Linked DNA regions of Homo sapiens. The protein of the gene in region 1 purifies or fractionates together with the protein of each later gene. This does not show direct contact. Each region holds a gene or a part of one and is shown in the gene's direction. Other genes may lie near its edges. The genes, in order: CHD8, CSNK2A2, NPM1, HNRNPUL1, AP3B1, KPNA6 and AP2B1.

Evidence for each region.
Region 2: the proteins of CHD8 (region 1) and CSNK2A2 purify together in Homo sapiens (affinity purification with mass spectrometry, with the first as the bait; 2 studies listed by BioGRID). This does not show direct contact.
Region 3: the proteins of CHD8 (region 1) and NPM1 purify together in Homo sapiens (affinity purification with mass spectrometry; 2 studies listed by BioGRID and IntAct, with this or other methods). This does not show direct contact.
Region 4: the proteins of CHD8 (region 1) and HNRNPUL1 purify together in Homo sapiens (affinity purification with mass spectrometry; 2 studies listed by BioGRID and IntAct, with this or other methods). This does not show direct contact.
Region 5: the proteins of CHD8 (region 1) and AP3B1 purify together in Homo sapiens (affinity purification with mass spectrometry; 2 studies listed by BioGRID and IntAct, with this or other methods). This does not show direct contact.
Region 6: the proteins of CHD8 (region 1) and KPNA6 purify together in Homo sapiens (affinity purification with mass spectrometry; 4 studies listed by BioGRID and IntAct, with this or other methods). This does not show direct contact.
Region 7: the proteins of CHD8 (region 1) and AP2B1 purify together in Homo sapiens (affinity purification with mass spectrometry, with the first as the bait; 2 studies listed by BioGRID). This does not show direct contact.

Annotation. Positions count from the first base shown.
Region 1 is NC_000014.9:21,396,592-21,400,623, reverse strand, and holds part of CHD8 (chromodomain-helicase-DNA-binding protein 8), read left to right. Parts: intron 1-11; coding exon 12-211; intron 212-316; coding exon 317-473; intron 474-553; coding exon 554-643; intron 644-918; coding exon 919-1,022; intron 1,023-2,671; coding exon 2,672-2,801; intron 2,802-3,222; exon of another isoform or gene 3,223-3,331; intron 3,332-4,032. UniProt on the Homo sapiens protein: ATP-dependent chromatin-remodeling factor, it slides nucleosomes along DNA; nucleosome sliding requires ATP. Acts as a transcription repressor by remodeling chromatin structure and recruiting histone H1 to target genes.
Region 2 is NC_000016.10:58,163,513-58,167,544, reverse strand, and holds part of CSNK2A2 (casein kinase II subunit alpha'), read left to right. Parts: intron 1-236; coding exon 237-338; intron 339-860; coding exon 861-961; intron 962-1,836; coding exon 1,837-1,985; intron 1,986-3,397; coding exon 3,398-3,474; 3' UTR 3,475-3,491; exon of another isoform or gene 3,492-4,032.
Region 3 is NC_000005.10:171,390,522-171,394,553, forward strand, and holds part of NPM1 (nucleophosmin), read left to right. Parts: intron 1-783; coding exon 784-903; intron 904-1,184; coding exon 1,185-1,278; intron 1,279-2,188; coding exon 2,189-2,295; intron 2,296-2,392; coding exon 2,393-2,457; intron 2,458-4,032. UniProt on the Homo sapiens protein: Involved in diverse cellular processes such as ribosome biogenesis, centrosome duplication, protein chaperoning, histone assembly, cell proliferation, and regulation of tumor suppressors p53/TP53 and ARF.
Region 4 is NC_000019.10:41,270,340-41,274,371, forward strand, and holds part of HNRNPUL1 (heterogeneous nuclear ribonucleoprotein U-like protein 1), read left to right. Parts: intron 1-1,742; coding exon 1,743-1,896; intron 1,897-3,642; coding exon 3,643-3,716; intron 3,717-4,032.
Region 5 is NC_000005.10:78,224,877-78,228,908, reverse strand, and holds part of AP3B1 (AP-3 complex subunit beta-1), read left to right. Parts: intron 1-669; coding exon 670-765; intron 766-1,376; coding exon 1,377-1,537; intron 1,538-3,300; coding exon 3,301-3,367; intron 3,368-4,032. UniProt on the Homo sapiens protein: Subunit of non-clathrin- and clathrin-associated adaptor protein complex 3 (AP-3) that plays a role in protein sorting in the late-Golgi/trans-Golgi network (TGN) and/or endosomes.
Region 6 is NC_000001.11:32,163,144-32,167,175, forward strand, and holds part of KPNA6 (importin subunit alpha-7), read left to right. Parts: intron 1-91; coding exon 92-170; intron 171-2,961; coding exon 2,962-3,087; intron 3,088-4,025; coding exon 4,026-4,032. UniProt on the Homo sapiens protein: Functions in nuclear protein import as an adapter protein for nuclear receptor KPNB1. Binds specifically and directly to substrates containing either a simple or bipartite NLS motif.
Region 7 is NC_000017.11:35,593,352-35,597,383, forward strand, and holds part of AP2B1 (AP-2 complex subunit beta), read left to right. Parts: intron 1-656; 5' UTR 657-679; coding exon 680-716; intron 717-3,181; exon of another isoform or gene 3,182-3,779; intron 3,780-4,032. UniProt on the Homo sapiens protein: Component of the adaptor protein complex 2 (AP-2). Adaptor protein complexes function in protein transport via transport vesicles in different membrane traffic pathways.

The DNA of each region.
Region 1 (4,032 bases):
CTGTTTTTTAGTTGGGGACGATGGCGAGATATTTTATCTCATGGACGCTTCAAGCGACGTATGACTGAACGAGATGTGGAGACCATTTGTCGGGCCATTCTCGTGTACTGTCTTCTACACTACCGTGGGGATGAAAATATTAAAGGCTTCATCTGGGACTTGATTAGCCCAGCTGAAAATGGCAAGACAAAAGAATTGCAGAATCATTCAGGTAATTATCAACTCTTTACTTTATGTTTTTCTATAGGTTAATCTAATCCTTTTCAGGTCCAAGGGTTTTTCTCAATCCAAGTCTTTGATGTCTCCCCTTTCCCAGGTCTATCTATCCCTGTGCCTCGTGGACGCAAAGGAAAAAAAGTAAAGTCACAAAGCACTTTTGATATCCATAAGGCAGATTGGATCCGGAAATATAACCCTGACACTTTGTTCCAAGATGAAAGTTATAAGAAGCACTTGAAACATCAGTGTAACAAGTAAGCATAGAATTAGCAGACATTTTCCACCTCAAACTTCTACAGTGTTACTGAGCCAGCTCTTCCTCTGTCCTTTCTAGGGTACTGTTGCGGGTACGAATGCTATACTACCTGAGGCAGGAGGTTATTGGAGACCAAGCAGAAAAGGTGTTAGGGGGTGCGATTGCCAGGTAAAATTCTGCTATATTTTTTTGATTTATGCCCTACCTTATTTGAGGGAAGATTGGTTTGCTTATTTCATTTTATGCTATCTTTGGGATACCTGATAATTTAAATCTATATATCAGGTCTTTAATCTTATACTTGACACTAGTGGGAGGAAATAGGGTAGATGCATGAGTATTTAAATTAATGGATACAGGAAGATACCTATAATAACCTTTGCAAGGATTCTCACTTTAATTTCCTGCATTTCTGTGCTGACTCTGCCCTCTTATACCTTTAGTGAGATTGACATATGGTTCCCAGTAGTGGATCAACTGGAGGTTCCAACAACTTGGTGGGACAGTGAGGCTGACAAGTCGCTGCTCATTGGAGTCTTTAAACATGGTACGTATCTTCTCCTATTCTACTCCTTTCCGACTGAAGATTTATGTTCACGGATGGAACATTTAGCAAAATGCTCCTGAGAAATAACTCAGTTATCTGATTGATCTTCAATAAATTTGAGTAGGAAAGTAGTTCTTAAATATCCAGAGCAGAGCAGTTAGTTCCTATAAATAGATGTTCAAGAAGGGCCAGATGGATAGGTAAATCTCAAGGTAGGGAGCCTCCCATCTGTTCTCTAATCACTGTTAGCAGTGTGTTACCGCACTGTATGCTATGGTAAGTTAGGGTCCCATGAATCAGGGCAGGTAATATACCCCAACTATTGTTAATAATAATCACACTTAATTTATATGACTTTCCTCTGGATGTGCACTAGCATAACAATTGCAGCAGATCATCTTGTCGCAGTTGTATTTCTGGGTGAGTAGGCAGAGGGAAGGCTCAATAATGTCACCTCAGAGGCAAAGCACCACCTGCAGGGTGGACTCTTTCTGGATGTTACAGTCTGAAAGAGTACGGCCATCCTCCAACTGTTTGTTCACAAATATCAGATGCTGCTGGTCAGGTGGGATGCCCTCCTTGTCGTGGATCTTGGCTTTGACATTTTCACTGGTGTCACTCGGCTGGACCTCAAGGGTGATGGTTTTGCCTGTGAGGGTCTTTACAGAGATCTGCATCTCTATGTCAGCTTGGCTGCCTCACTAAAGAGAAAGAGCTGAAAATCTTCTGTTTTTCTACATGTCCCATTTGTCTAAATGTTCAGCAGTCTCTCTGATATAGGTATGAGGCAGCAGTTTTTGAGTGAAATAAAAGTAGAGTATAAGAAGGGAGACTGACTAGCCAAAACAAAAATGCAGTGGGGGTAAGAATATTTCCTTACTCTTATAGCAGTTTTGCCTAATGCCAAATCCCAGGCACTAAAAACAGTAAGCGTTAACTTTCAGCCAAGTGACTTTGTGAATTAGAATGTCTTTTTTTTAAAAGAATACTTTTTTTTCTATAAAATAAAAGTAATGGCACTTAATCTACATCTTTTTTGAGACGTTTAATGGGATAAATAAAATTGCAGGTGCTGGGCATGGTGGCTTATGCCTGTAATCCCAGCACTTTGGGTGGCCAAGGTGTGCAGATCAGGAGATTGAGACTATCCTGGCTAACACGGTGAAACGCCGGCTCTACTAAAAAATATAAAAAATTAGCTGGGCGTGGTGGTGGGCACCTGTAGTCCCAGCTACTCAGGAGGCTGAGGCAGGAGAATGGCGTGAACCTGGAAGGCAGAGCTTGCAGTGAGCCAAGATCGCACCACTGCACTCCAGCCTGGGCGACAGAGTGAGACTCCATCTCAAAAAATAAATAAATAAATAAAAATAAATAAAACTGCAGGCAAGGCATGGTGGCTTACACCTGGAATCCCAACACTTTGGGAGCCTAAGGCTATCAGTCACTAGTTAAAAACTCTTCATGATTCTAAATTGCTATAAAAATGTTAAATATAGTAATAAACCCAGTAGTTGTCCAAGATAACATTCTAACTTTGTTTTCCATTATGAGCAATATAGAACATATTCTAATTATTCCAGCAGCATATAAAGTAAGCATAAAGGCAAAACAAATCTCATTTTCTTCAACTATGACCCTTTTTCTTCTAGGCTATGAGAAATATAATACCATGAGGGCAGACCCAGCCTTATGTTTCCTAGAAAAGGCTGGCCGACCAGATGACAAAGCAATTGCAGCAGAACATCGAGTGTTGGATAACTTCTCTGACATAGTAGAAGGGTAAGCATTAGTATTTGTTCTTTTAAAACTCTAACTTGTGCCGTGAAATAACTCTAGCCTTGACTGAACCCAATGGGATTCTTAATTGTAATTATACTCAAAAGTGATAGATCCTTAGCAAAAATAGGACCAGCAGAAAGGACTCCATAAACTGCATAAACCACATGTTGCCATAAGATACATCTGAGGGTGAAAATGAATGTCACTTGTAAATGGCTTATTTGATGTTCTATTTGGTTTGGTTTACAACACTCTTCTGTACAGCTACAGTAGCTGAGAGGATAACTGGTCTCTTGAAAGATAACAGCCAGCAGCTCTCATACGTTGCTTCTGTGGAAGAGCCTTAGGCGCTTTCAGCCCTGGTTTATCATCTCCCAATGGTACCTGACACATAAAGGTACTTATTTTGCCTGAAAACATGTCCCAATGATGAGTTGCCATGCTAATACTGAGCCACCAGGTAGGGCAGTGTTGCCCTGGTTTGGGTGCCAGTGAGTTTAACAAAACTTCTCACATGAAGATCTGAGGGGCATGTGAAACAGTTGGCTTAATGAATACCTCCCCATTCCATCATGACTGAGAAATTTCTCTTTGACGATCACACCCTCAGTTTGCCTAGTGTAGGACCCTCAAAGGAAATTGGGTTATTTATTCATTGCAAATCGTTTATGCCACCTGTCTGCTCAGAAGAACACAGTAATAAAAACAAAAAAGCGTGAACCATACAAATGAAATAATAAAAAGTAAATAGTTGGGTAGGAGGAAGAATTACATAATAAAAGTCAAGAAAAAGGAACTGTGTTGATCAAAGTGTTTCAAATTCAAGCAATTACGAATGGTACATTGTCAATTTCTTATAATTATTTGTATTCCATTGGATGCTATACCAGACTGACCCAAAGTTTTGCACCTGGCCTGCCATTCCTGTAAACACGAAATTAAATACTAGGCCAGGCACTGTGGCTCATGCCTGTAATCCCAGCCCTTTGGGAGGCCACAGTGGGTGGATCACAAGGTCATCAGTTCGAGACCAGCATGGCAAATAAGGTGAAACCCCGTCTGTACTAAAAATACAAAAAAAATTAGCCAGGAGTGGTGGCGCATGCCTGTAATCCCAGCTACTTGGGAGGCTGAGGCAGGAGAAACACTTGAACCCAGGAGGCGGAGGTTGCAGTGAGCCGAGATGGCACTGCTGCACTCCAGGTGATGGAACAAGACTCCATCTCAAAAA
Region 2 (4,032 bases), on another chromosome or scaffold:
GCTAGTTTTTTGGGGGGACAGAGAAGTTTTTAAATCTAAAATATCTGCAAAGGTTAAATGAAGACTAGAAATTCAGATCATTTCTAGGAGCCAGGAAGTTAAAAAAAATTTTTTTTAAATAAATTATCTATGGCCATACCACCCTGAACACGCCCAATCTCGTCTAAAAAAGAAATTTATATCAGAAAAATGGATTTCTAATACCCTTGGCTAATGCGTTGTCCTTATTGCCTCAGATGTATGATTATAGCTTGGACATGTGGAGTTTGGGCTGTATGTTAGCAAGCATGATCTTTCGAAGGGAACCATTCTTCCATGGACAGGACAACTATGACCAGGTGAGCAAATGCTTTCTGGTTCTTATTTATTTGGGGGTGAATGCCAAAAAAATAGCATCCTTAGATAAGAATACTATCCTTGAGCCACTAAGTATCACTCAGTGTCTGCATATGAGCTTTTCTTCAAGATAAAGATCGCACAGAATTTTGTGTTTACCAGGTCCGCAGAAGTAGAGGCAGATAATGCCATCTATGCCAAACTTCCAAAGTGAATCTGTGAAGAAGTCAGGCACCTCCTTGTCTAATAAAACTAGATTTTAGTCATTAGATTGTGATGCCCTGTACTGGTCCACCTCTAGAAGATTATTATCGTAAGTTGTATTATTTTAAAGGCCGTTTGGAAATTTGCATTCATGTGAACTTCTTGTCCTTGGGTCTGTCTGCCTGCCCTGGACCTGGGTTTGTATCTCGTTCCTAGAGGTTTAGTGGTGTGGAAGTCTTCTGATTCCTTGGTGCAGTGTCCTCACGGGCTCATGGTGTGTTCTGTGCTCAGTGATTTGGTCAGTTTGTTTTGTGTTTCAGCTTGTTCGCATTGCCAAGGTTCTGGGTACAGAAGAACTGTATGGGTATCTGAAGAAGTATCACATAGACCTAGATCCACACTTCAACGATATCCTGGGACAGTAAGTAAGAGAGAGAGAGAGAGTGCTTTACCTTACCCCGTTTCAGAAGTGGAAAGGTTAGCCAAAATCACTTTCTTTTCCCATTCTGATTATAGTAAAATGGAAGTAGCCCTCTTTTTTCCTATGCATATTTTCTTTTAACTTATTGAGATATTTGGACTTTATGTCTTTTAATCATTTTACTTCTCTGAGAGATAACCTATTAATAGAAAAGGTAAAACAAAAATCATAATGTTATAGAAAAAAGTTTTCTGGTACAGCAAAAGCTTATTTTTAATGGCCAAACTTGGAGAGCAATGATTCTTTGAATAAGAGACTTAGTTTGTTTTTTATTATATTTTATTTTATTTACTTCATATCTCTTCAAGGTGGACTTACAATTTCTTCTTGTTCTCTGTAATGGATTTTCTATACAATAGCAAATTTTAAAGCACATTGAGTTTTCAGGTACATTGCAATAATGTTGAGAAGTAAACATTTTGTTAACAGTTTTCAAACAGTATTTTATGGAACCTCCCTGTTTCTGAGGCTAGCCCTGGGAAATATATCTGCTGACCAATAAAAATTGCCCACTCTTCTGCATGCCACCCAGAATTGACTAAAAGTCTACAGCATAAAAAATAATCTAGAAAGGTTCCACATATTCTAAATGAGATATAGAAGTTTTACCTAGTTGTATTTTTCTAATCACAGAGCACCATTGTGTTTCAGGATGCTATGCTGTAACTATGGGGCCGTAGGGCAGGCACCAGTTAGAGATTTAACAAGCTTGTAATCAGTACATTATTCTGAGATTTTGTTGGCTTTAGCCCTAGTAGATAAGGATTCTTGTTGAATTTAGTCTCTGGTTACTAATGCTTCATTTTTCTTCTCAGACATTCACGGAAACGCTGGGAAAACTTTATCCATAGTGAGAACAGACACCTTGTCAGCCCTGAGGCCCTAGATCTTCTGGACAAACTTCTGCGATACGACCATCAACAGAGACTGACTGCCAAAGAGGCCATGGAGCACCCATACTTCTGTGAGTCTCCAGGGACTGTGTTCAGGGAGTAATTCAGTCAAGAGAACAAATCTTCCACTCTTTGTCTTTGAGACCAGTCAGGAGAATTCTAGGGTATTTGGATTGGATTATTCCTAGAATTTGGCCTCATTTATCGTAGATGATTGAGACAACTTTGCAGATCCGTTTCTTGATCACCAAAGGTGTTTGCTTATTCACTGAATGTATCTCCCCGGAGTTCAAGCTGTTTGACTACTCCCTGTTACCCTGAGTTAATAGATCGCAAGTTTCTAAAATTTCTTTTTAAACATACATATATTTGTGTGGAAACCTAATTGAAGATTATTTCTCCCCTCAGAAAACTAGTAATTAGTTAAAAGTAGTAAGATAACTATTGTATGTTTTGAAAGAAGGAGATGAACAGATGGATGGACGAAAGGAATTTGAGGAAAGGGAAGTAAGTGTGGAGAGGCCTCACTGAAATCTTGACTGAACTGCTCACTTAGAAGTGTGTGTGGATTCACTTTGCGTGTTTGCTTATTCTTCTGCATGTGTATGGTTCTTTCCTCTGATAACGTGTGTTTCAAATAAACTTCCTCCTATTATCAGTCTCCTTCCTGGGGAGCAGGGAGGTTGAGAGACTTACCTCAGTCGCTTTCTGAATCAAGAGGGAAACGTTCACCCCTTAAAGTCGTTGTCTCTGGCTTAACAAACATGCTGTCTTTCCCTCTCCTTTGATTTCCTCTGGAGATGAACTAAATTCTTGCCTGAAGAATGTGTCGCTGTAGTCTTGAGCCTGTGGCCCATATGCATAAGGGAGACCGCAAATGGAAAAGCCTTCAGCCTTCTAGACCTCAGCCCCAGGAAACTCAGATGTCCCCGCCCCAGTGTCTGGCACAGAAAGCTGTTTTTACCCGAGTTAGATCAAATTAGGAATACTGATGTTTATGACATGTCATTAATGATCTTTCTGCTTTTCTGAATATATGTCATACTTCAATTTAAAAAATTTCAAACTACGGTTGCTTAAAATGGATAGGTCTTCTGATGGCTCTTTTTACTCACCTTTCCTTTGAAGTGCTTGTTATTCTACATGCTTTGAAGAAATTAGGGGTTAGAGATGATATTAATATTGAAAGAAAATAAATGTAGAAATTTGAACAGTGGGAAATTAGAGTTTCTATGCCTCTTAGCATTGAGTCTGTACTCCGAGGAAGGGTAAGAGTTGACTGCAATAACAATTTCCCTGATCATTTTTCAGTGTTTGGTTTTTATATGGCTGGAATTCCGTGATTTCCGTCTCTCCTGTTGCCCCCCTGACCCTGGCTTGCCCATCAGTCTGTCTCTCTTTCCGTTGAAAGGGTGGGTTTGCCATGGGCTTCTCTCAGCACTCACCACCCTGATTGCCTGACTTTCCTCCTGCTTTCTTGCAGACCCTGTGGTGAAGGAGCAGTCCCAGCCTTGTGCAGACAATGCTGTGCTTTCCAGTGGTCTCACGGCAGCACGATGAAGACTGGAAAGCGACGGGTAATGCGGCATTGATGCTTGCCAATAAAACCAACCAACCAAACACAAACCTTGAAGGAAAACTACAGTGTGATAAAAAGAAATTCTTATCATTCCTTCTAAATGCACAGAAGAGTAAAGACCTAAAAGTCTGTCAAAAAGCAAGAAAGAAACTCCCCAGTGCTAGTCTCCAGGGAGCTGTCACTGTGGCAGCATGGGGATGCACCTAGTTCAGGATCTGAAGGAGCTCTGCCTTTGGAATGCATGGGAGATAGAGACTCGGAGTTGTTGTACATTTACCTTTGTTTAACAGGGCACCACTGTTGAATTAACCCATTCAGTCAACAAGCTCTGAATGTCTGACTTCCTATCTATTCCATTGTGGTCTGGGTTTCCTTTGGTGAAATTCAGGCTCAAGTCTTAGCGAAATGTCAGCAGTCTATACTGACACACCAGCCTCATTTACAAAAAGGAGATATTAAAACAGTGACAGTATTTTTTTTTTAAGCTCTTTACAAATCCACGTTTTATGTATTTTTTAATGACATGAGCTCTCCAGGAA
Region 3 (4,032 bases), on another chromosome or scaffold:
TGAGAAACTGATTTGCCAAGATCACAAAACCTGAGGACAACATTGCACAAATTTGTTTTCCAGGGTAATAGTGAGAGGTTTATACTTGTTTTTTAAAAAAATCACAGTCATGTGCCTCATTGCAACTGCTGGGTCAACAGATGGATCGCATATACAATGGTGGTCCCATAAGATTATTATACCTTATTTTTAATATACCTTTCCTGTTTTTTTTTTTCTTTGGAGGCAGTCTCGCTCTGTCACCCAGGCTGGAGTGCAGTGGTGTAATCTCGGCTCACTGCAACCTCTGATTTCCGAGTTCAAGTAATTCCCTGCCTCACCCTCCCGAGTAGCTGGGATTACAGGCATGTGCCACCACACCTGGCTAATTTTTGTGTTTTTAGTAGAGACGAGGTTGTTACCATGTTGTCCAGGCTGGTCTCAAACTCCTGACCTCATGATCTGCCCGCCTCAGCCTCCCTAAGTGTTGGGATTACAGGCATGAGCCACCAAGCCCGGCCCTTTCCTATGCTTAGATGCACAAATACTGTGTTTCGGTTGCTTACAGTATTCAGTACAGTAACACTGTACAGGTTTGTAGCCTAGGTGTGTGTAGTAGGCTATACCATCTAGGTTTGTATAAGCACATTCTTATGATTGTACAAAGATGAAATTGTCTAACAACACATTTCTCAGAACCTAGCCCTGTGGTTAAGTGACGCATGGCTGCATATAACATTTAGTGGGGGGGTGTAAAATAGGTGGAACTCAAAAGTTGAAGTAGTATTTTTTTTTTGTTCACAGGTCAGTTTAGGGGCTGGTGCAAAGGATGAGTTGCACATTGTTGAAGCAGAGGCAATGAATTACGAAGGCAGTCCAATTAAAGTAACACTGGCAACTTTGAAAATGTCTGTACAGCCAACGGTAAGGGCACTTACATACTTTGGATGTTGTGTCAAGGTTTAATTCTGTTTTAAGGTAGGTTTGGTGTCATTTAGTTGTGCCAAGGAGATAGAAAGTGGTTCTTTATCTTCTGTCACTGGAGTTCGATGGTCAACTCTTGAACATGGGGGCTTCTGCTGCTACTTTTATCAGAGGTGGAAAAACAGGTTCACTGGTTTGTTGATTTGGCTTATGTGTTTGCCTGTAATGTTTATTGTTCATTTTCTTCACATGTTTAGTGATGAAAAATTTCTCCCTTCTAGGTTTCCCTTGGGGGCTTTGAAATAACACCACCAGTGGTCTTAAGGTTGAAGTGTGGTTCAGGGCCAGTGCATATTAGTGGACAGCACTTAGTAGGTATGTTATTTTTATATATTATACTACTTAGTTTGTCCTCTTTAGTGCAGTTGCTTGGTTCCCAGTTTGGACTTAAAGCATGGGTATAGTACTACTGTCTTTTTAATAGGTTCCAATGTGAGTCTAGAAATTGGAGAGGACAAATAAATTTTTGGGGCGGGGGGGAGAGGAAATCTTGCTGTCACCCAGGCTAGAGTACAGTGGCACGATCTTGGCTCACTGGAACCTCTCCGGGATTCAAGCGATCCTCCTGTCTCAGCCTCCCCAGTAGCTGGGGCCACAGACGTGCACCACCAAGTCCAGTTGCGTTTCATAGTTATAGTAGAGAAGGGGTTTCGTGATGTTGGCCAGGCCGATCTTGAACTCCTGGCCTTAACGTGATCTGCACGCCCTGGCCTCTCAAAGTGCTAGTATTACACGTGTCAGCCACTGTGCCTGGCCTAAAAATTATTTTTTAATAAAGACAGTCTCATTATAACGGCTGGAGTGCAGTGATGTGATCATAGCTTGCTATATCCTCGAACTGCTACTGGGTTCACCTCAGCCTCTGGAATAGCTAGAACTACAGGCACACTCCACGCCTGGCTAATTTTTTTTGTATATGTGCAGATGGGGTCTCAGTATGTTGCCCAGATTGGACTCTTGGCCTCAAGTGGTCCGCCTTGGCCTCCCCAAAGTGAGATTACAGGCATGAGCCACCCTCCCCAGGCTTCTTGCATTTAAAACCTGGCAGTGAACATTAGGCCTCAAAATACTTTTGTTAAAAAGTTCCTTTTCCCATGTGCTCTTTTTTTTTTTTTTTTTAAATAGAATAGAAGTCTCAGTTTTTAGAGTATTTACTATCAGTGTTCTTTTTTTTTCTGACTTCTTGCTGCTTGAGTTTTATAATGTCTAATAAATTGTATTTTAGCTGTGGAGGAAGATGCAGAGTCAGAAGATGAAGAGGAGGAGGATGTGAAACTCTTAAGTATATCTGGAAAGCGGTCTGCCCCTGGAGGTGGTAGCAAGGTTCCACAGGTAGAGATGGCAATTTTATTATAGGTTTTGTATTATAGCTTTTAGTTTGGTGATAGAACAGCTCTTGTTCATGAGTACGTATCTTTTCTTTTAAAAGAAAAAAGTAAAACTTGCTGCTGATGAAGATGATGACGATGATGATGAAGAGGATGATGATGAAGAGTAAGTATGATTTTAGAAACTTGATATACTTCCGGAATCTTGACAAAAAAAGGAATTTGACATAGTTATATGCATGAGGGTTTTATAAAAGTCATTTACAAAAAGCCATCCTATGTAATAGTTTATAATAAAAGGGCAGGTGGTCATCTGTTGTCAGTTTAAGTTAAATGAGCTGAGTTGAAAGGATATTGGGTCTGTGAGCCTTTACAATGCTGTGACTTGTGACTCTTCAGAAGGGTAGACTATAGTGTTTGTGAAGTTTGATTATGTCCCTTTGTTCTGAAGATTTAGTGGATGTGTTATACCCATCAAGCCTGGTATGTTTTATGGTGAGCAGTTAATGAGATTGGGTTGAAAGAAAATATGATTAAATAGCTCTATATTCATTTTACAAGTTGTTACTCAAGGTTTGTTATTCCCTAAAAGGATTTTGTCTTATGGTTTTATGTAGATATTTATTGACAAAAATAAGATTCTAAAAGGGATATTAAGATTTTCTTGGGATTTAAAATATGGTTGGAAACAATATTTGATGACTTTATATTAAACTAGATCAAACTATTGTTACAAACAGTTAATACGCACACTGGTATAAAGTACTGTTTATAATTGGTCTTATGTGTGCCAGTACCAGTAATGCATTGAATACTTTGATTTGGCTCTCAGCTTTGTCCTTCAGTTCTGAGGTTGGTCCATATGCATTTATTGAAAACAAATATAAGAACATGCACTTTAAAAGAGAACCTGCATGAAAGATCAAATTGGGAGTTTAGGTTTTAAGCTGGTGGTTCTTCAAAATCTTTGAGCATGACGATGAAGGCAGAAAACAGGAAAAAGGCCGAAAGAGCCGAAAGCTTAAAAATTCAAAGTATGACCAGGCGCAGTGGTTCACACCCGTAATCCTAACACCCAGCCAAGATGAGAGGATCTCTTGAGGCCAGCCCGGTCAAAATAGCAAGACCCAATCTCAAAAGAAAAATAAAAATTCAAAGTACTTGCATGTCAAACTTATAAATGAACGCAAACTTAAAGGTAGTATTTGACTGTTGCTGTTTTTGTTTTCTTTTTTTTTTTTTTTTTTTTTGAGATGGAGTCTCCAGTTGCTCAGGCTGGAGTGCGGTGGCGCCATCTCGGCTCACCACAACCTCTGCCTCCTGGGTTCAAGCGATTGTCCTGCCTCAGCCTCCCGGGTAGCTGGGACTGCAGGCTCGGGGCACCATGCCCTGCTAATTTTTGTATTTAGTAGAGACAGGGTTTCAGTATGTTGGTCCGGCTGGTCTTGAACTCCTAACCTCGTGATCTACCTGCCTCGGTCTCCCAAAGTGCTGGGATTGCAGATGTGAACCACTGCGCCCAGCCAAATTTTTGTATTTTTAATAGACATGGGGTTTCACCACGTTGGCTAGGCTATTCTCAAACTCCTAACCTCGGGCGATCTGGTCACCTCATCCTCCCAAAGTGCTGGGATTACAGGCATGAGCCACCGTGCCCGGCCACTTTTTTTCTTGAGATGGTGTTTTACCATGCTACTCAGACTGGACTTGAATCTCTGGGCACAAGCTATCCTCCCCTCTC
Region 4 (4,032 bases), on another chromosome or scaffold:
GCTCCATGAGCCATGATGGCAGCACTGCATTCCAGCCTGGGCAACAGTAAGCCTCTGTCTCCAAAAAAATTTTTTTTTTAATTAAATTTAAAAACCTTGTGTCTTCTTGGGCTGGTGTTGCTGAAAATATTTTTTTTAATAAAAAAATAGACAAAAAACCTTGTGTTGTATCGTTTAAACTTAGGATTTCCCAATCATGTTAAGTATATGTCTTTACAGAACAAAGTTCCCCATGATGCCAACTCTCCCTTCCCTTTTTTTTTTTTTTTTTTTTGAGATGGAGTCTCGCTCTGTTGCCCAGGCTGGAGTACAATGGTGTGATCTTGGCTCACTGCAACCTCTGCCTCCCAGGTTCAAGTGATTCTCCTGCCTCAGCCTCCTAAGTAGTTGGGACTACGGGCGTGCCACCACACCCAGCTAATTTTTTGTGTGTTTTTAGTAGATGTGGGGTTTCACCATGTTGGCCAGGATGGTCTCAATCTCCTGACCTCATGATCTGCCTGCCTCGGCCTCCCAGAGTGCTGGGATTACAGGTGTAAGCCACTGCGCCTGGCCTCTCCTCCCCATTTTATAGATTGAGGAGTTGGCTTGTCCGATGGCAGAGCTGGGGCTACAACCTAGCATACTTGCTCCCAGGCTAGTCCTCTTGGTTAATAAGCAGCATTCCTTATCATTTGTGCCTTACTATTTGGAAAGCAGGGTCCCACTATTGAGAACTGATGGAGCCCGGACTGACCCCCAGTTTTGTGCTGCTTTTACTGTGTTGTGGCCTCCCAGTGCCTTTTCTTAGTGTATCTGGTTGATTTTGTCTAACGCCATTCTGGTTCATCCACAAAGTTAAATCCCCAGACATTTCTTGTGGGTGGCTCAGAACTTTACTGAATGTAGGTTAAACCGCAGATTTGTGTCAGGCTCTGTGAGACTTGTAGGATCATTCAGCCACAGGAGAATATTTTCTGTGCCGTTATCCACAGACATTCATCAGGAGCCCTGTGTGAGCCCAACCTATTGCTGGGAACCAGGGAAGCTCTCTTCAGGATGGCTGAGCACCATCCCAGCCCTAGAGAACCAGGAGACTTTTCTGAGAGATGTGGTCCACATGCCGAAGCTGGGGAGTGATCCAAAATGGTCTGGGGTTGAATGCAGAAATGAGTAGATGTGAATGAGCTTCAGCATCAGGGATTAATGCTGTGGGAGAAATGAAGGTAGCCTACATCTGTGGTTTGCTCTTGGTTAGGCACTGATTCCTGGAGTCTGCCTGAGACTAGGACTTACCCGTGGTCCACAGCACGGTATCCCATCCTGACTTTCTGTTAATGGTATGACTTAAAGAGGTTATTGCACCTATGGGATGGCTTAACCGGAGTGATTCTGGCCTCTTTTGGTAGGGTAACTAAAGCCCGTAGAGTTAGCTGCAGGACCACAGTACCCTGTTGAATTCATCCTCTCCCCCTCCCTTGCCAGACTGAAGAAGCTTTGTAAGAACTAAGGCAGAGAGGTTCTTTGGGAAGAGAAATTGGAGAATTTAGGGTCATGGTATCTCAGATCCTAACCCTGTTCTCCAGTATGGCCTTCTTGGCTGGCTCAGCAGGCTTCTGTTGAACTCAGCAAGCTGCCTGTGCCCAGCCCTTCATCACTGTAGTGAGGATCCTGCTCACATCTCTCAAGGGAAAAGGGACCAGAAAAGTGATAGCTGGGGAGCTTGCGAGTGTCTTGACCATCTGAATTTGTCTTGACAATAGAAATGAAGACAGAGATGAAGCAAGGAGCACCCACCAGCTTCCTCCCGCCTGAAGCTTCTCAACTCAAGCCAGACAGGCAGCAATTCCAGAGTCGAAAGAGGCCTTATGAAGAAAACCGGGGACGGGGGTACTTTGAGCACCGAGAGGATAGGAGGTGGGTGTATGAGGCAGCAGTCACCCTTGCTCTGGTAGGTTTCTATATCCATAGCCTCGTGCTTGCTGGGGACATTTGCACTAACCTAGAGGGGCTGAGTAAAGATTCCCTCTGCTTTCACACTCTTCCTGTCCCTTCCCGTACTTGCTACCAGATTCAGCTTTCCTAAACTTTTGGTCCTTCCCCCAGTTCCTCCCTTCTTACCTGCAGGGTAACTTCTAAATATCTTAGACTTTCACGCGTGAGATGCCAGCCTGCCTGTTCTGTCCTTTGCCTTACTGCCCCTGCAGTCAGCTGCTTGATACCCGTAATGAAAGAAATATCTGTTTCCTAACACTACTCCCAAATACACATCCTCTTCCCATTCATCCACTCATTCAGTCAGTTCTCACAGTGCTGTCACGAAGTGCCCACTCTTGGGCTGGACACTAGCAACATACAGATGGACAGTGGGTTTTGCCTTCTGTTGTTCCAGTGTGGGGACTCAGACACATACACTAGTAAGCCACAACCTCTGAGGTGAGTAGTCAGGATGCAGGTGAGTTTCAGGAGTTCAGAAGAGGGAGCAGCCTCTGCTTTGGTCATTTCCCTTCCCTAACAAGCCCTTCCCTCCTTTCCCTCCAGACCAAGTCCTTCCCTTCCCTCCTTCCTTCCTTCAGTTCCTGTCTGAAGCCTTTTGCAATTATGAAAACTAGGAATGGCCACTGTACTCATCTGGACTAGTCATCTGACATTCTATTTCCTATCTGGCGGAGTCCACCTTCTAACTAGCTTGTTACTGTCTGAGACAGGGCCTGGATCTCACAGGCTATGATTTAAGTTAGGACATGGATCCCACCTCATATGGGGTTCTTCCACTGCCTCCCACAGAGCAGAAGCCTGGAAGCTACTTACTGATGGAGAGCAAAGGAAGAACACTCGCTCTGATCCTGGGCTGGCAGGGAAAGTTTCCTAGAATGGACTTAACATGTGATGAGCACAGCTCATCCATGTTAGCCCTGGCCTGGCGAGGCCAGAGGGGCCCTCCACCAGAGGGAAGCCTGCTGCTGGGAGAGTCAGCAGCCAAATGGGCATGGGCTCCCCATCTGTGCATGCAGTGCACTGCGACCACCCAGACTGTCCAGGCAGGACCCTGAGTGTTAGATTCTACCTTTCTACCCTTCTTCCTCGTTCCTGTACAGCAGAAACCAACAGTGTTAAGTCCCTTTTTTAGCGTTTTGGTAGGAAAATGAATATCGTTTATAATTTAGGACACTGAAAAAAATGGGTCATCTCAAATTCTTACAGATGTAGGATTTTAAGAAGCCTGGTACATGGATAGATAGTAATTATTGGGATTTATATAGGCTCTTGCACATTCCCCTTCCTGGCCAGCACCCTTTTGGGATACCACAGCCTCCAAACAGTAACAGAGATCAGTGTGGAAGTGGTTGTCAACATGCAGAGGGTATGGATCAGAATCTTTGGGTGTAAAAAAAGAGTGAAAAAATTCCCTAAATGATTCTGATGCCCCCCTTCAGCAGAGCATGCCTTCTTCAATCCCTGTCTCCACCGTAGGAGTTGACGGTCATTGCTCTCCTTGCAAGGATGTAGGGTTTCAGAGTTCTTTTGCCCACCTCTGTGGAAGGAAATGGAGATTCAGGAAGCAGTCTGGAGGCCACTCATAGATTACAGCAGAACATTCATTTTCTTTCCTTTGTGCTCATCCATTGTTCTTGTATGACTTAACCCCTGTTTCTAATACAGGGGCCGCTCTCCTCAGCCTCCTGCTGAAGAGGATGAAGATGACTTTGATGATACCCTTGTTGCTATTGACACCTGTAAGTCTTTGGAGTGTGCATCTAATTCTGCCTTACAGTCAGTATGGGGAAATTGTGGTCTTGACCTTCACCAGAATCCCTGCTGGGCACCGTCCAAAGACATTGTTAGTCCACATGTGAGACACGGCTTAGCTCTGGAGCAAGAGTACTGGTTTGGAGGCAAAAGACCTACTCCCAACTCTAGCAGTGGGACCCTGGGCAAGTCATTCTACTTCTCTGAGCTTCCCTTCAGGAAGGAGTAAATCTGCTGTACTAACCTCAGAGGATTTTCAGGGAGACTCCTCAGTGGATATAGGAGCAATCTGGAAAACCCTGA
Region 5 (4,032 bases), on another chromosome or scaffold:
ACATCCAATCTTCTTGAATTTTTATTACGTTAAATTGGTATTCATAGTCACACATTATTCTTACTGGACTGAAAATATCATGTAATGCGTGTTGAAATGTGAGTATTACCATAAAAATCAGAGTTAGGGCTCTGGACTCTTTTAACAGATGAGGAAACAAGTTCCCATAACATATAGTTAGTGGCCTGGGCCCAAATTCTTTCTCTTATTATTTTTTAAAGAGGTAGGGTCTCTCTGTGTTGCCCAGGATAGCCTCTAACTCCTGGGCTCAAGTGATCCTCCTGCCTCAGCCTCCTGTGTAGCTGGGACTACAAGCATGTACGCCATGCCTGGCTTCTTTCTTTTATTTTTATCCCTCATTTTGAAAATATTTTTACAATTTAGTTAATATTCTTATATGAGATCTGCTCAGGGATTTTTTATTCCCTTCAAGAGGAAGGGACACTTTGATAGGCTATTGCTATTGTGAACTGGACTATTAAAATGCTTACTTTAAAAGCTTTTCCTGTTGTACTTATTATCCCACAAAATATTATTTTTATTTTACAATCTAACATGTGACCAGATTCAGTTATTTACTTGAGAAGAATTGAGCATGGATTTTGGTATAGCAAATACTGAGTTTTAAATTTTCACTCTGGTTATGAATAAATGATTTTTTTTTAACAGATCAAGAAGTTGGTATATGTTTACCTGGTTCGATATGCTGAAGAACAGCAGGATCTTGCACTCCTGTCCATAAGCACTTTTCAGCGAGCTCTGAAGGTAAATAATGGAGTGAGTAGGCAAATAGCTACAAGGTTTCTGCAGAGTTGAAAGTGTGTCAGTTAAAGAAGTGGAGCGATAATCCACTAAATAGCACAGTAGTGTCTTGAAAGAGTTAAAAGCCTCCTATAGTGCCTACTCAGTACACTTAGAAAATAATTTATACAACCAACTGAAACCTTGCTGTATATGTTACAGCTTCTGTATGTTTGTTTATATTCAATATAATTATTTTCATGCTTCAAAGAGCTGTTTATCATTATACTAGTTGTTGAAAGTACGCAAAAGGGGTTATAAGACATTTTTAAACATGAAATTGATGACCTGCAGCATTTTATTATTATGAAAGTATAAAAACCCAGCATATTTAGTAATAAATGACCAACTAGAATTATAACTATTACTTTTCTTTAAAACATTATTAAAGAAGTAAACATTTATGTCTGTCTTTTTTTCCCATTCCTATATACTAATTGTTCATTTTAAATTAAGTAGCTTTCTTTTGCTATTGTCATATTACACCCTTTAAGCACCTATTAACTGTGTCTGAAAGATATGTTTAAAATATTGTAAAGTTGAAATTTTGGTGAATATTTTTGCACTATTTTTAGGACCCAAACCAACTAATTCGTGCAAGCGCTTTGAGAGTTCTGTCAAGTATTAGAGTGCCAATTATTGTACCTATCATGATGCTTGCTATTAAGGAAGCTTCTGCTGACTTATCACCATATGTTAGGAAGAATGCAGCCCATGCAATACAAAAATTATACAGGTAGGTGCATTGTTAACAATATACCAAAGATCTCTGATGTTACATGGAATGTTATAGACCACAGAGGCTTGTTTTATTCGCTCTTTTAGGTAGGCTGCTCTTACACTAAGTAAATCCAGTGACTGTATGATGGTATTTCCCCCTGCTGCAAATGTTCCTTACACATCTTTAATTTCGTTTTGGCTATAGAGACCCTATGCAGGTTTTTATTTGTGAGGCTGTTAGAGCCTGTGATAATTTATAGATTTTATAACTTAAGAATAATCAGAATTTGAATTCTCATTTATATAGTCTATCTCATGTACACATATGCTTGTATTATTAGAAAATTGAGATTTTTTTTTCCTGTTTAGGGTAGAATCTTAAGTGTCTGATCCTCTCAACTCACTTATATGTGTTTTCCTTTCTTCCATCTTTGTTCCTGCTGCTCCCTTCGTTGTCTAATTCTTTTCCAGAGCTATTTTATTAAGTAATTTTAAAAAGTGTAGTGATTTGAAATATAGTGTGCTATACCATATCTGTGTGATATTTTAGAAATGTTATGCAATATTATACAATGCCCTGATCTCTGTGGAAAATTTACTGTCCAAATAGAATTGTCTACAACAATTTGGTATTATTTTCAGCTATCATTTATTCCTCAAGCTTTTTGAGACTCTCTTCTGTTTCTGGTGTTGTATTCACAGTATTGTGCTATGTGTATTTAGATGTATGAAAACAGTAGAGGATGTGGCACTTAATTATGAATAGCATATCATGTATTTGAGGAAGAAGATCAAAGACATACCAAATAATTAAAGGCAATCTATAATGAATAAGATATTAGCACTTGATATATATGTATATACAAAGGTACACTAGCAATGTCTTTGATAGGACAGGGACCAGAGATGATCATATTTTGTTACCGGAAAGTAAAGATGTAATGAGATGGGATTGGTAGTGAAATACTGCTTTGAGAAGGAAGACTTAAGCTGAAATTTGAAAGAATTAAAAAGTTTGTCCAGATAATTATAATGTTTAGTAATAAATGTGTATGTTTGTAGAAAGTGAAACCTCATATTCCTATGTTAACTGCCAGACAAGGTTTTATCATGCTTCTCACTCACCTTTTCTCCTTAGAAACTTATGGGATAAGATCCATGCTCACTCTAACGGCTTAAAAGTCCTTCTATCATTGGGCACCAGTATATTCCAGCCTCAATGCTTGCCTCTCCTTGCCTTGAGCTTATAGTCTGTTAGTATTCTATCTCAAATGTTTTAAGCTTATTACTACCTCTTATTTTTCCTAGTTTTAGTTGGCAGATTTTATAATGCATGTCTCTATCAGTGAACTAGTATGATATAAAATTCTTATTTGGAAATTCTCCATATTTGTTTTTGGGAAGTATGTATGCATAGTAAAATAATGACTGCTATCTAGTTATTTTTTTCCTCCCAGTTGAAAAGAGTTTGTGGTTTATCTACTTACAGTCGCTTTCTTGAAGTTTTCCAACTCTTTTAGAAGTGAACTTGTTCTTTCAGTACTATCTTAACTAAACCATTGATATCTGGTTTAGTTAATATGAACAATATTAGAGGGAAAGATGAGGACACATTCATGAGAAAAACCATCCCATTTTATTTGTTTTTCTTTATTTCTAACTTATAATTCTTGCTCTCCTTTCCCTCTTTAAAAATTTCTCAACATCCTTGAATTGGTGAGCATCATGTAAAGCTAGAATTAAAGGGAAAAATTAATATGTTATTTTTGTATTTTTTAGCCTTGATCCAGAGCAGAAGGAAATGTTAATTGAAGTAATTGAAAAACTTCTGAAAGATAAAAGCACAGTAAGTAATGTCTTTTTACGTCTTTGACATAAAAATGTACTTTATTTACATAGTATCATTTACCATTATATATTTTATATAGTTGTATTTATTGATTTCAAAATGGTATAAATATTAATGGCACACAGGACTATTTTTAAAGAACAAAAATTTTCATGTAATGAGAAAGACTGCATTTGGAGTTTTAGATCGTTATGTGTTTCTTCATCAGAATCTGAAAAAAGGCAAGTTGAGAAAAAAATCTTTAACCTGTGGCTAAGTGGTTAACATGGTAAGATCAAGGAATAGAGGTGACCTATGGGGGATGTGAGTTACTAGTGTACTAGTATCTTAGATGGGGCTTTTGTACCCACTTTATATTTCTCAAAACTACTGAGGAAAAGGATTCCAGCTCATCTTAGGATGCTATCATCAGGGAGTATGTACTATCTATGCATGGCAGCTATCTAATACAGTAGGCAGTAGCCCTGTGTAGCTGTAACTATTGGTTTATGGCTTAGCATTTGATCTATCCTGGATAATGTTCAATAAACATTTGATTAGAATGTGTATTCTGCTGTTGTTGAGTGGAGTGTTCTATAGATATCTGTTTTTTAGTGTTGTTCAAATCTTCTACTTTGCTGATCTTATGCCTACTTGTTCTATTCATTATTGAAAACAGGGTA
Region 6 (4,032 bases), on another chromosome or scaffold:
TTAAGCTTCTCCAGGCTCAGACTAAAGAGAGAGAATCAGCAGGGCCGAAAATGGTGTGCTGGCCTTCTGATCAGATCTCCCTCCTCTGTAGGCACAATGATTACAAAGTGGCTTCTCCTGCCCTGAGAGCCGTGGGTAACATCGTCACTGGGGATGACATCCAGACCCAGGTAAGAAAGAGGAGGGTGCAGGATCTTAGACCAGCTATGGAAGAGCTTGTGGAGAGCTGCCAGTGGACAAAAGCCTTTCCTGCAAAGGGCTGTGGTCCTGATGGGAGGCACTATGGTCTAAGGAAGTAAGTGTGGGCTTGAGTGAAAAGTTCCAGCTCTGTTATTCTCTAAACAGTCATGGGAAACTTGGTTCCTTCTTTTCTTACATAAATTGGGAACAAATCATCGTCTAATGGGTGAAGGAAAACTAAGTGGAATAACTGGACTTACCACCTGGGACATTGTGAGTTAGTTAAGTTTGAGTCATGGTCCCTTTGAGATACTGAAAGCTATGGAACTCCACCCCTGCTTCCTAGATCTTTAAGGTCTCATGGATATCATGGACCTTGGAATAATCTTTTGTAAATAACCCTTCTGGTGAAGGCATAGTAAACAAAGTTCCCCTGCTCAAAGGCTAGAGATTTGGGTATTCTTTGGGTTTTGAGTAGCGAGCATAATTCTGTGGGATTCTGGACAGGTTTCTTAACAGGTGAGTAGTGTCACTCAAACACTCAAACCCACATGCTCATTTTCTGGGTTACTTTGTATATGTATATGCATGTACTTTAAAATACAACATAAAATTTACCATTTTAACCATTGGCATAAAGTACATTCACATTGTTTTTCCGTTATTGCCACTAGCCAGCTACAGAAATTTTTTATCATCTCAAACTGAAACCGTACACATTAAACAGTAACTCCCCATTCTCCCTTCCCCTAGTGCCTAGTAACCACCATTCTATTTTCTGTATCTGTGAGTTTGAGTGCTCTAAGTACCTCATGTAAGTGGAATCATACAGTGTTTATTCTTTCTCGTCTGGTTTATTTCACTTAGCCTAGTATCTTTAAAATTCGTTCATGTTGTAGCATGCATCAGAACTCCTTTGAAAGGCTGAATGATATTCCACTGTATGTATATACCATATTTTATTTATCCATCAATAGACATTTGGGTTGTTTCCACCTTTTGGCTATTGTGAATAATGCTGCTATGAACATTGGTGTACAAATATTTGTTCAAGTCCCCGGTATATACCCAGAGTGGAATTGCTGGATCATGTTCTAATTTTATGCCTAATTTTTTTGAGGGGACACCATACTGTTCTGCACAGCTGCTATGCCATCTTACATTCCCACCAACAATGCAGCATGTTCCAGTTTCCCCACAGCCTTGCCAACAGTTGTTATTTTCCGTTTTTTGTTTTTTGTTTTTTTTTTGATAATACCCACCCTAATGGGTGTGAAGTGATATTTCATTGTGGTTTTGATTTGCATTTTTCTAATGATTGGTAATGTTGAGCATCTTTTCATATGCTTATTGGCCATCTGTGTATTTTTTTTTTTTTTTTGGACACATGTCTATTCAAGTCTTTTGCTCATGTTTTAATTGGGTTGTTGAGTTTTCTGGTTGTTCAATTTTAGGAGTTCTTCATATGTTCTGGATATTAATCTCTTATCAGACACATGTTTTGCAAATATTTTCTCTTGTTCTGTGGTTTTATCTTTTAACTTTGGTGTCTTTAAAAAAAAAACTTTTAACTTATTTAATTTTTTAAAATTGAGACAGAGTCTGTCTTTGTCACCCAGGCTAGAGTGCAATGATGCCATCTCGGCTCACTGCAACCTCTGCCTCCTGAGCTCAAAGCAGTCCTTCCACCTCAGCCTCCCAAGTAGCTGGGACTACAGGCATGCACCATCATGCCTAGCTAATTTTTTGAATTTGTTTTTTTTTGGAGAGACAGGGTTTTACCATGTTGCCCAGGCTACTCTTGAACTACTGGGCTTAAGCAATCCTCCCACCTTGGCTTCTCAAAGTGCTGGGATTACAGGCATGAAGCCACCTCACCCAGACCAACTTTCTTTTCTTTTTTAATTTTTTTTAGAGGGTCTCACTATGTTGCCCCAGCTGGCCTTGAACTCCTGTGCTGAGGTGATCCTACTGCCTCAGCCTCCTGAGTAGCTGGGACTGCAGGTGCATACCACTGTGCCCAGCTTACTCCAATGTCTTGATGCACAACAGTTTTTCATTTTGATTAAGTCCAGTTTACCTGGGCCAGGTGCAGTGGCTCATGCCTGTAATTCCAGCACTTTGGGAGGCTGAGGCAGGAGGATCACTTGAGCCCAGAAGTTTGAGACCAGCCCTGCAACATGGGAAGACCCTGTCTCTACAAAAAAAAAAAATGTTTTTTAATTAGCAGAGTGCGGTGGCACCCTGCTACTCAGGAGTCCCCAGCTACTCAGGAGGCTGAAGTAGAAGGATTGCTTGAGACTGGGAGGTCAAGGCTGCAGTAAGCCATGATCATGCCACTGCACTCCAGCCTAGGCAACAAAGTGAGACCCTATTTAAAGAAAAAAAATGAAGCCGGGCACAGTGGCTCACACCTGTAATCCCAACACTTTGGGAGGCCGAGGCAGGCAGATCACCTGAGGTCAGGAGCATGAGACCAGCCTGGCCAACATGATGAAACCCCATCTCTACTAAAAATAGAAAAATTTTCCGGGCGTGGTGGTAGGCGTCTGTAATCCAAGCGTCTTGGGAGGCTGAGGCTGGAGAATCACTTGAACCTGGGAGGCGGAGGTTGCAGTGAGCCGAGATTGTGCCATTGCACTCCAGCCTGGGCGTCAGAGCGAGACTCTGTCTCAAAAAAAAAAACAAAAACAACAACAACAACAACAACAACAAAAAAACATAAAAAAAATTAAAAACAGTTTAATTTTTCTTTTGTTTCCTGTGCTTTTGGTGTTCTAGGTCATTCTTAACTGTTCAGCCCTACCTTGCCTTCTCCACTTGTTGAGCAGTCCCAAGGAGTCAATCCGGAAGGAAGCTTGCTGGACTATTTCAAATATTACTGCTGGCAACAGGGCTCAAATACAGGTAAAACAGGCAGGGAAGTCAAGGGGCATGGGAAGTCATAGGAACTTGGGAGGTTGTTGGAATATTTGCTTTCAGAAGAAAGAATTTGTTTCCCTTTAAAAATAGGAGTCAATTGGCCAGGCACGGTGGCTCACGCCTGTAGTCCCAGCACTTTGGGAGGCCGAGGTGGGCAGATCATGAGGTCAGGAGTTTGAGACCATCCTGGCCAACATGGTGAAACCCCATCTGTACTAAAAATACAAAAATTAGATGGGTGTGGTGGCGGACGCCTGTAATCTCAGCTATTCGGGAGGCTGAGGCAGGAGAATTGCTTGAACCCGAGAGGCAAAGGTTGCAGTGAGCTGAGATCACGCCACTGCACTCCAGCCTGGGCAACAGAGCGAGACTCCGTCTCAAAAAAAAAAAAAAAAAAAGAGGGGCTGGGCATGGTGGCTCATGCTTGTAATCCCAGCACTTTGGGAGGCTGAGGTGGGCGGATCACAAGGTCAGGAGATCAAGACCATCCTGGCTAACGTGGTGAAACCATGTCTCTTCTAAAAATACAAAAAAAAAGAAAAATTAGCCGGGCGTGGTGGCAGGCGCCTGTAGTCACAGCTAGTCGGGAGGCTGAGGCAGGAGAATGGCGTGAACCTGGTAGGTGGAGCTTGCAGTGAGCCGAGATCGCGCCACTGCACTCCAGCCTGGGTGACAGAGCAAGACTGTCTCAGAAAATAAATAAATAAATAAATAAATTGGAGTCAGTGTGTACTATTGGTCAAAGAAGCTGTGTAACCAAAACTGGGTTCTTCTGTAGTAGCCTGTCACCTATATAGGAAGAACAAAAGAAAACTCCCAGAATGGGGAAGATGTCTAAGTCTCAGCTGATTTGGGGACTAGATTTATTTATCATGCTGAAATGACTTTCTCCTTCCATCTGCCTCCTCTCAATTCTCTCTCAGGCTGTTA
Region 7 (4,032 bases), on another chromosome or scaffold:
CCATTTACACTAATGTAATTATTATGCATTGTCTGCCTGTTATCAAAATATCTCATGTACCTATACGCACCTACTAAATACCCACAAAACTAAAAATTAAAAAAATTCCATGCATAAGTCATGGTTGCCTCTCTAGATGTTTGTTGTGAAAGAATATTGTCCTACTAATTTTGAATTTTTTTTTTCTGAAAGAGATTCTTTTTATTGAAAGTTTCATGTCATAGATCGGCAAAATTGTTTTTTCTTTTGACCTTACACTGCTTCAGAATATATGTTTTGGAGTGATTCCAGCTTGAGGCAAGGAAGTTACCAGATTTTCCTGAATGGAAAGTAATTGCAGATATATTTATAAAAAGGTCCAGCTTTAGCTCTTGAAAGCTTTGAGGAGTTACTGTGGATAAAATCACAAAGCCATAATAGGTTCATACTTTTACCCAGTTGCATTTGGCCTTTAGATTTTTGCCCCATTAGCTTGAGGAGTTACATTCTTAGTTTTTCTTGAACCATCAACGGTGGTGATAAAGGAAGATGATACTCATTTTTAGAAATTCTTAAATATAAGTGTTCCTAAAATTAATTGGATGTTCTTAAAATTAATTGGATGCCTTGTTGGATATCTATAACCTGAATGAAGGAATTCTTTTCTCTTGCTATAGGTGCACATTAAAGATCCAAAGTCATGACTGACTCCAAGTATTTCACAACCAATAAAAAAGGTAAGTATGAGAATACAATCAAATCTTTTGAAATTTTCAAAAGTTGTAGTGTAAGATTGCCCCAGGCAGAATGCTGCTGACCTCTTCCTTCAGACATACATGTAGCTGACAATCTCACTGGACATCTACTACTTCTATAGATGAATGTATTCAAGCAAGTTATTAAAGAGTAGGTTTTAAAAGAGAGGGCTGTGATGCACATTATTATGACTTGAAGGTTCTGTTTAGTGAAAGAGACTCCTCTTTGCTGTTTGAGATGATCCATTGGAGATTGGTTAAGTGTGAGGAGGACAAAAGAAGCAGCATACTTTTTCCCTTTTATTAAATAATTTTTACTTGGAAATAAACATTTTATAACAAAGAATACAATTAAAGCAATACAGATATGTATGTAAAAGGTAAAAATGAAAGTTCTCCCTTCCTGTTCCTATTCCCAAGGGAACTTGGTGTATATCCTCAAGTCTTTTTCTCTGCATATGAGTGCATATATTAATACATATGATTTAAAATTTTTTTATCTTTAATGAAAAAGCAATCTTGCAAAACAATGAATAGAAATGAGTTATTTTCATATCCGTCCATATACATCTACCATGTTCTTCGTCTAGATGTATATTTAAAACGGAATCTCTAGAGCCATCTATGGTTTTTAGGTCATAGACGGAATTACTTGAGGGACTTTGCACTTATTACTCTCATCATCTTTGTTATCAGTAATATAATGCTTGTTTTTACCTATGAGTTTGGGTCTAGGAACAAAGGATTCTTCTGGGGAAAGTCCAACCCTTCATCTTTTGTAAAATTGTTCCTAAATAAAATAGATCATTTCTAGAAATGTGGAGGGTCTTCCCATCAAAGACAAACATTTTAGCCCATCTCAGCTTATTGTGCCTGTAGCTTAGCTTGCTTTATTTGTTGCTTAGGATCAGAATTCTGTGCTTTTGTGTTCAGGAGTCCTTACATTTACCAAAGTATTCCAGACATGGCGCCAACTACCATTCTTCTTTTTCTCTTGTTGCAGTGAGTTGCTTAATTATGTCAGTTTGTTGTCTGTAGCTTTCAGTCTTGGCAACACATCAGAATTGCTCAGCCAGGGAACTTTGAAATAATACTGATGCCTGGGTCTCAACCTCAGCCTGATTTCAGTTGTCCTGGATATGGTCTGGGTGTGAGGATTTTAAAGGTTCTCCAGGTGGCCAGGCATGGTGGCTTATGCCTGTAATCCCAGCACATTGGGAGGCTGAGACAGGAGGATTGTTTGAGTGCAGGAGTTTGAGACCAGCCTGGGCAACATGGTAAGACCCTATCTCTATGAAAAAAAATTTAAAAATTAGCCCTGTACGGTGGTGCACACCTGTAGTCCCAGCTATTTGGGAGGCTGAGGTGGGAGGATCACTTGAGTGCAGGAGGTTGAGGCTGCAGTGAGTCGTGATTGTGCCGCTGTACCCCAGCCTAGGCAACAGAGAGAGACCCTGTCTCAAAAGAAAAAAATTAAAAAGAAAGCTCCCCAGATTATTTTAATGTGCAGCCATGATTGAGAACTACTGCTAGCTGCTAACAGTGCTTGGTAGATTTGATTGGGGGGAGGAGGAGGGAGAAAATATAGGAATTTAATAAAGTTGTAGAATATATGACTTTGCCTCTTTTAGTACCCCTCTTTGGTCCTGCCCAACTTTTTCCTCCTTATTTTTATTACTTACACCTCACAAAAGCCATTAGCCACTTGTCATTCAGTCTCAGCTTTTTCTGATTTTCTTTTGGAAATATGTTTATTTCTTCTTCTGTTAGCATTTTGTGTGCTTTGACGAACAAAATGTCTATAATTATATAAAGGGATACAATTACAATTAAATAGTTATAATTTTAAAACTCTCCTAATTCTTCAAACCTACTCTTGAAAAGTGTCCTGGTGACCTTTTTTTAATTCAGGCATTTGTAAAAGTTTGAGACTGCAGATTGAATCACTGCTAATAAACATCATACTTAAAAAAAATTGATAGATTGTGTTCCCTGTACTTCCTGCAACACCCACCAGAACTGCCACTGAAACATATTCTTTAAATTTATGCTTTTGGAATTGGAATAATTTCTGTTACATCCTGCTTTGATTCTATAACACCTGCTGCTGTTCACAATTCAGACTTTCTGAAACCCCGCCGTTTGTCCTTCACTGTTCCCGGAAGTGAATGAGAGGAACTCTAAGAGCTGGATTTGGCAGGATGGGACATGGTGAAGAGTCCTATGAAGAATGACTCTTTAAAGGGCCCAGCTTTTCTTGCTATGCTACTTTTGTAGCTGTTGATTAAATAGAAATTTTGGAACAATTTTTTTGCCTTATTGGCCATGGATATTGAAACGAAAAAGTGCTCTACTTCTGTGTCTTACTAATTTCATCCTTTCCACATAATGGTTTCAGGCAAATCACGTAGTGTTTGTCCCCACTATTTCTTTCTTTTTTTTTTTTTTGGAGGAGGGGAGGTCAGGTTTTAATGTCCCAGTCCTCGGGCGCCGTCATCCCGCGCCTGCCAGGCCCGGCGGCCATGTCGCTCACTCGGGTGGCGGCCAGCCTGCCTCATCAGGGCCTTCCGCGGAGGCCGCCCCGTCGCCCTCGAGCACCAGCTTCACGTCCAGCTCCAGCTGCCCGGTGTAGAAGCCCACGGCGGCGCACACCCAGAGCGGGCTGGTGGCGAGTACAGCGCCCGCAGCTGCGCCCCCTAGCGTCAGCTGCATGGGCCCCCGCAGCGCTGCCAGGCCCCGCAGGCGCTGCCCCACACCGCACACAGGCCGCCCAGCAGGAAGAAGCCATATGCTGCTTCGTGATCCATGTCACTCTGCATGAAGGAGATAACCCCGATGCCCTATGCCAGGAGGCCATTGTGGAACCAGGAGAAGAAAGCTGTCTCGTGCGCCTTTCGGAGAGGAGCCTGGCGCCTGCACGGTCCAGCTCGGACACAGGTGGCGGCGAAGCCCCGTTGTGGGGGCCGTGGCCGGGGGCGAAGGACCCCTGGGCGCCCCCGCTCCGGGGCCACTGAGGCAGCAGTAGCGACCTCCGGAAGCGGAGACTGTCCCCACTGTTTCTATGCTGGTAAATGAGATCTGGTTGAAAGGAACGACAGGAACAGTCTTGAAGGTGGAGGAAAGTCTTTTGAGGCAGTATGGTAGATGAGCTGGAGGATGTAGATGGAAAGTTGAGATGGGAGTAGTCAACCTCTTTTTCATGGACTTAGTGTTTTTTTTCCGTTTCTTTTAAACAATATTAGGGTTGTTACTTTCTTTTTTATTTTGGTTCCGGCTTCTTGCAGATAGGTGAGCCTGG